2 linked regions of the Homo sapiens genome follow. The protein of the gene in region 2 purifies or fractionates together with the protein of the main gene of each other region. This does not show direct contact. Each region holds a gene or a part of one and is shown on either strand. Other genes may lie near its edges.

The links.
Region 1: the proteins of LBX2 (region 2) and TRPC4AP purify together in Homo sapiens (affinity purification with mass spectrometry; one large-scale study listed by BioGRID and IntAct). This does not show direct contact.

The regions. Positions count from the first base shown.
Region 1 is NC_000020.11:35,040,691-35,044,341, forward strand, and holds part of TRPC4AP (short transient receptor potential channel 4-associated protein), read right to left. Parts: intron 1-3,651. UniProt on the Homo sapiens protein: Substrate-recognition component of a DCX (DDB1-CUL4-X-box) E3 ubiquitin-protein ligase complex required for cell cycle control.
Region 2 is NC_000002.12:74,497,454-74,501,204, reverse strand, and holds LBX2 (transcription factor LBX2), read left to right. Parts: upstream 1-1,601; 5' UTR 1,602-1,667; coding exon 1,668-1,872; intron 1,873-2,886; coding exon 2,887-3,278; 3' UTR 3,279-3,688; downstream 3,689-3,751. UniProt on the Homo sapiens protein: Transcription factor.

The DNA of each region.
Region 1 (3,651 bases), on a different chromosome or scaffold from region 2:
CCTCCTGGGTTCAAGCAATTCTCCTGCTTCAGCCTCCCAGGTTGTTGGGATTACAGGCGTGTCACCATGCCCAGCTAATTTTTGTCGCAGATGGCTTATCATGGGACTCCTCCGCCTGTGATCGTGTGAGCCAATTCCCCTAACAAATCCCACCTCATAAATCCTACTGCTTCTGTCTCTCTGGAGACTGCTGCCTAATACAGGGAAGTAATTAAGGTTAAATGAGGTTACAAAGTGTGGGGCCCTAAACCGAGAGGACTGGTGTCCTTCTAAGAAGAGGAAGAGACACCAGAGATCTCCGTCTCTCCTCAATGACAGAGAGGAAAATTCATATGTGGATACAATAAAAAGGTGGCCTTCTACAAGCCAGGAAGAAAGGCCTCAACCAGGAACCAATCCTGACAGCACCTTGATCTTGGACTTCTAGCCTCCAGAACTGTGAGAAAAATAAATGTCTGTTAGTTAAGCCACCTAGTCTACGGTACCTTGTTATGGCAGCTCAAGCTGACTGATACACACACCTGAGATAAAGGCATTCACTACTGGAGCGCAATTCAAGAATGATAACATTCAGAGGACTAAGACTTTCCTCATCCACTCGTGATTTAATTATGTCCACCAGCTTGGCCTTCCCAGGGCATTTGAATGGAGAAAATCGTGCGGGTAAGGGAATGGAGTAGGAATTATGGTCAGGGTTGGGAAGGGTCAGATCCTGCACAACCTCATGTGTGGAACTACAACTTTTAGGCTTTATCCCAAAAGCTACAAGCAGAATCACACATAGACTGTCTACTAGGCTAGTCACACAGATATGAAAGTGAATCTAGATTATTTTATAGAGACTTTAAGAAAAAACTCCCAAATAAAAAAACAAAAACAAAAACTGGGCTTTCCGTTCTCAGTTAATCAAAAAAGCCCAGCTGACCAGAACAGTTCATTCCTCAAGAATAATGGGTAATGCTGGTTTTACTTAAGTCAGTTTACAAATAGGCATCTGAAAGCAATCAATACTAACAGGATCAAAATCATCTGCCAGAATAGATTCCTTAAATGGGAAACTAAAAGATGAAAGTTACTTAGTGCCTCGGCATACACAGGCATCCAATACAGAACCTTTCTAGCCCTCAGTTTCCTCACATGTGCAATGGGGATACTAATCTCTATTCCACAGGGCACTTGAAGGATTAAATAAAATCACTTCTAGGTAAAGCAGTTACCCAGCGTTTGCCACATACCAGGAGCTTAGCAAATACTACCTTTTGTCAATGTATATGGAGGTGTGTACACCAGCTCTGAGGTATAATTTAGTTATAATGAAAGTCACTTTTTTTAAAATTATACTTTAAGTTCTAGGGTACATGTGCACAACGTGCAGGTTTGTTACATATGTATATATGTGCCATGTTGGAAAGTCACATATTTTTTAAAAATGTAAATTTCCTAAAATGAGAACTCCCCCAAAATCATAAAGGAGTGGGAAGAAAACCGTACACAGACCAAGGAAGACCTTGTATCTAGTGACACAGGAGGAAAAGCAAATCTAGAGAGAGAATAAACTGGGGTTGGAGTCCACAAACTTCTACCTTTACATATGACTACAACATGTAAAATTATATTCCCTAATAACCTACAAAGTATAGTTATGATCACCTCATGTTCCTAACTAAAACTAGACAATAACAGAGTGAATGGCAGGTTCATATTCAGCCTCAGGAGAGGAGGCTGCTCTGAAGCACTTGATAACTCTGCAGAGCCAGCCTGGGGAATGCACACAACTGGACTTTAGAAACAAAGAACTGTTTTCAGAGCATGATTAGGGCTACCTCTGCATGGTCATGGTTTTCTACTGCTGCTTTTTAATGATACATTTGTATAATTTTACCTTGTTTATTTGGTGTACCATAAGGTACACAGTGATAGGTTTTTGTATTAACAATATTTCCAGCCTGTTAACATTGAAAAACTAGCTTTTAAGACACAAGTTTCAGTTCAAATATGAATTATCTACACTCTTATGACCAAAATACATCTATGCCAGTTTCTCCAAAATCTGTGCAGGCAACAACATTTTAGATAGAACACAGTTCTTTTGCTACTGAACAGAAATAGGTGGGCTAGATTGGTTAGAATAGTGTTTTGTTTTTAAGTAATATATTTACACGGTTCTAAAATCAAACAATATATGAAAGTATACAGTAAGGAGTCCCACTCCCACTGCTACTACCTTCCCTTACCAGCTACTTCCTATTAATAACCACTTTATGTTTCTTGTGTACCCTTTGTTTCTTTAGGCATACCATATATGTGGGCAAACGTATGGTCTTATTCTCCCCCTGACTTAATACAAAAACTATACCATATACACACTGTTCTGTATTTTCCTCTTTATCATTAATATATCTTGGAGATTTTTCTATAGCAGTACATAGAGATCTTCATTTTTTCAAAGCTACACAATTTTCCATTATATAAATATTGAATACACTAAGCAGTCCAGTGTTAATGAACATCTGGGTTTCTAGTCTTTTGTTATTACAAATAATGTTGCAATGAATAATTTTTTTTTTTTTTTTTGAGACGGAGTCTAATTATGTCGCCCAGGCTGAAGTGCAGTGGTGCAATCTGGGCTCACAGCAACCTCTGCCTCCTGGGTTCAAGCAATTATCCTGCCTCAGCCTTCTGAGTAACTGGGACTACAGGCGTGCACCACCACACCCAGCTAATTTTTGTATTTTTAGTAGAGATGGGGTTTCGCCATGTTGGCCAGGCTGGTCTCAAACTCTGAACCTCAAGTGATCCTCCTGCCTCGGCCTCCCAAAGTGCTGGGATTACAGGCGTTAAGCCACCGTGCCTGGCCTCAGTGAATAATCTTGTACAGTAGTCCTCCCTTAGTCAAGACCCTCACAGTGGATACCTGAAATGGCAGATAGCACCAAACCCTATATATACTATGTTTTTTCTTATATACACACATAACTATGATAAAGCTTAATTTATAAATTAGGTACACTAAGAGATTAACAATAACTAATGATAAAATAGAACAATTGTAACAAGATGCTGTAATAAGAGTTATACGAATGTGGTCTCTCTCTGGAATTTTTCAGTTAATATTTTCGGATTGCAGTTGACCACGGATAACTGAAACCACAGAAAGTGAAACTGCAGACAAGAGGAGATTAGTGTCTATACATCATTATCTATAAAATGAAGGCCCAGGAGAGACTTAGTAGATCAAAAAGTATATGCATTTGTAATTCTGATAAAAAGTAGTTCTTAACTTTTTTTGTGGTTCTGAGCCCATTAACAAATCTAATGAAAGGTATGGAACTCAGTTCCCAAAATAATGAACAGATACACAAAATTTACATACTAGGAGCCTTCACATGGATCCATCTCTAGAGATATTTAAAAGGGGTGCTAGGTGTGGTGGCTCACACCTGTAATTCTAGCACTTCGGGAAGATGAGGTGGGTGGATCACTTGAGACCAGGAAGTCAAGACCAGCCTGGGCAACATGGCGAAACCCCATCTCTACAAAAAATACAAAAATTAGCCCGGTGTGGTGGCACCTGCCTATAGTTCCAGCTACTCAGGTGGCTGAGGTGGGAGGATCACCTGAGCCTGGGGAGGTCAAGGCTGCAGTGAGCCA
Region 2 (3,751 bases):
ATCCAGCAGTGGCCCATCAGCCTTTAAGTGTGTTGCTCAGCTTTCCAGGAGGGCATTATGTGAATGTTGCGGGTGGGGGAGGGGGGTTGTTGGAGTGAGCCCTTTACCAAGAAGACCCTATCAAGGTGCCTTCCCATCTTTGTCAAGGAGTCTTTGGCCCAGGTGCCTTGGATCTCCTAAGCCCTGTTTAGGGAACCCCAATTGCATGCAGCAGTTGCCCCAGGGAATAGACAGGTGGACACTGCACAGATGGTGGGAGATGCAGGGGTCTACAAGGAAAGTGACATAATGGACAGTCCAGGAGGGACTGGCCTGGTTTTTCCTGACACTGTTTTAAAAAGCTAGAAGCACATCAGTTTCTGACTTCCCTGGGCAGCAAAGCAGCAAGCTCCTCAGGAGTGGCAGGGCTTCCCTGCTCTAAGGTGTGAATCCTCCAGCTGTTTGGGGTGGAATGTAGGAACAAAACCCATACCCTGCTGGGCCTCAACTGCTGAGGCCCCACTGTCCCTGAGCTGCCTTCTTCCTACAAAGGAGGGCTGTGGGTGCTTACCCAGGTATGAGCCCAGAACCAGAATAAGTGTGGCAGATAAAAAGGGCCCAGATTAAATAGGAATGAGTATACCAGGCCTCACAGTTAGTACCTGGGTTGTCAGGAATGTCCCAAGATCCAGCTGGGTCCGTGAAGTCTGCCCTTCAAGTCTCTCTTCTATGGGGAGTGACCCCTCTCTGGTCAGGGCACCTTGCTCCCCTTGGCAGTTTCTGAGCCTCTGCAGGCTGGGGAAACCATACATACCTGAACTATGGGAGCTTAATAAAAAGAAGATAAAGACAGACAAAATCGACTGATTTTGCCAGTCCTCACTGACAAAGACCCCTCCTGGGCAGTTGCACCAGCTGGGAGTTCCCTGGGTCTTCTCTCCTGCGGCCCGGGTCTCCCGGCAGCTTCTCTGTGTGTTCTGATTTCGTCAGGTGGGGCAGCCTCGGGTCCATTCACCTGTGCTTGCTTCTTCGTGGCATCCCCACTATTCCCAGTTGCAGTCGCTCCGCCAGGCCAGGTCCTCCCAAGTGTTGCGCCCCCGACCCATGCAGCACTAATCACTTCCAGCCGTCAGGACCAGAAACAACGTTTCTCAGGGGTGGGGTGGGGAAGAGGGAGCCAGGTTAGGAGACTGAGGTCCTAGCTGGGATCAGAGATCCCAGCACAGTCAGCCCTGATAGCCTTCCTCAGAACTTTGCAAATCCCCAGCCGCTGGGGCCAGAGAAGGCAATTTTATCGTCTACTAGTTTATGAGCCGGAGCGGCGGCTAGGCGGGGAGTCGGCGGCATACAGCGTCTGGAGGTATGGCCCGGCCTGACTGTGCACGGTGCAGCGCCCCGCAGCGCGGAGCAGCCCCGTGGCCCTGCTCTGGTGGGTAGTTTGGTCGGCTTCTGCTCTCCGCGCCTGCCCCAGCCTGTAGAAATACCCTCCCCGGACATCTAGGAGCTCCAGATCCACCGCGGCCCGGGGTGGAGAGGTGGGGGCGCAGGAGGAGGGGCACACGGGACTCGGGCCCAGAGCCGGGGGCGGGTCCGAGGCTGGGGGCCCGGATTGGGAGCCGAGCACTGGGGCCCAGGCGTTTGCGGAGCCTAGCGCAACGGACAGCCGGACCGCCCCAGCCCGGCCGACCATGAACTCGGGACGCGAGCCCCGAACACCCCGGACACTCTTAAGCATCGCAGACATCCTAGCCCCGCGCATGGTCCCCCGAGCACCCTCTGCGCCGCAGCTTCCAGAGTCGGGTCCGGGTCCAACGTCGCCGCTGTGCGCGCTGGAGGAGCTGACTAGTAAAACTTTCCGCGGACTTGACGCGCGCGCTCTGCAGCCCTCTGAAGGTATAGAGCCGGCAAGGTCGCGGACTCTGACTTAGCCTTTTCCTCACCTCTCTCCTCCTGGTTCCCCGTCTCAAACCTTTGTCCCAGCCCAGGCCACCCACCCTAATCCTCCCCTGTCCTCAGCCCACGTGCCAGGACTCGCACCTGCGACTTCTCACCTCTCCTCCGTTAGTCCCTAGGTTCCGCGGCGGCTCCGGAAGGCCGCCAGTGCCAAGGGAAAAGGGCAGACCGTCGCCAACTGAGCGACCTGTTGCTCTGTTCCTTGTAGGCGGGGCAATCGCGATAGAGAAAGGCAGGAGAGAAAGAGACAAAAGGCTTCAGCCGCAGGCGGTAAACGAGTGAGCCTGCAAAGGCGGCACAGAAAGCGCTGGAGAGTCGAGTCTTTCCGGGTGACCAAGCTCCGCTCCAAGCCACTCTCTTCTCGAGGGGAGTCAAGGAGCAGAAAGCCCTTGGCGCAGCACTGGGCGCGGGATTCCGCACTCTGCCTTTTCTCGCTCTCTGTACCTCATTATCTCCCTTTGGGGCCGGAGGAGCGGGCTCTGGTGTCACTAAGGAACTGTAAACCGAATGCCCGACCCGATCCATGGAAGGGCATGATCTAAGTCCTGTTACCACCACCACGCTGGGTCGGCTGCCCTGACTCTTACTCGCCTCTGATGTCACCCTCAACTTATAGCCTGCTCAGCCTGAGGCTCCTAAAAGCCTCAAAGGCTCCACCCCAGAAGGTTTGACCCTGCACCTCTGAATCATCCCTCCCTTCCTTCACTTCCTTGCCCCTACAATATGCCCTCAGCCTGCTGCCTTTCGCACCCCTGTGGCCAGCCCGCTTTGCGCCCCATATCCCCACCTGGGCCTGACTCCCGATAAGGGATCACAGTTCTGGTCTCCGTCCGCCTTCCTGGCTCTCCCTCTACTTCCCCCACCGCCACCGGCCCGACCCCACCCCCAACTTTTCTTTCCAGGCCCAGCCTGATTCCCGGAGGCTGGAAACTGACCCCCTCCCTATCCCTACAGGGCGGGCAGGTCCGGACGCGCTGGGCCCTGGTCCCTTCGGCCGCAAACGGCGCAAGTCACGCACTGCGTTCACCGCGCAACAGGTGCTGGAGCTGGAGCGGCGCTTCGTCTTCCAGAAGTACCTGGCGCCGTCCGAGCGAGACGGGCTAGCTACGCGACTCGGCCTGGCCAACGCGCAGGTGGTCACTTGGTTCCAGAACCGGCGAGCCAAGCTCAAGCGCGATGTGGAGGAGATGCGCGCCGACGTCGCCTCGCTACGCGCGTTGTCCCCGGAAGTCCTGTGCAGCTTAGCACTGCCCGAAGGCGCTCCAGATCCCGGCCTCTGCCTCGGCCCTGCCGGCCCTGACTCCCGGCCCCACCTGTCAGACGAGGAGATACAGGTGGACGATTGAAGACAAAGCCGCCGCCAATCCTGGGCTCTGGGGCCCTGGACTCCTCACCTCGCGCTCTGCCTCTGGCCAGAGTTCCAGGGTGGAGGAAGGAGGTCCACTTGGGCCTCTTCCGGCCCACAGTCCAGACGCTCACCTTTCCCGGTTTTTTTGTAAGTTTGTTTTGTTGTCTGAGACAGGGCCTCGCTCTGTCGCCCAGGCTGGAGTGCCGTGGAGCGATCACCGCTCACTGCAGTCGCGACCTCCTGGGCTCAAGCGATCCTCCTGCCTCAACCTCCCGACTAGCTGGCATTACAGGCGTGCAGCACCACCCCAGGCTAATTTAAAAAACTTTTTTTTTTAGAGAGGAGGTCCCGCTATGTTGTCCAGGCTACTTTCCCAATATTTGAGAATAAAGTCGAGACTCTGCCGCACCATGCCTCTATCCAGACGCCCGCCAGAAGCAAGAAACAGTAAAATCTGTAAAGTGCTATGGG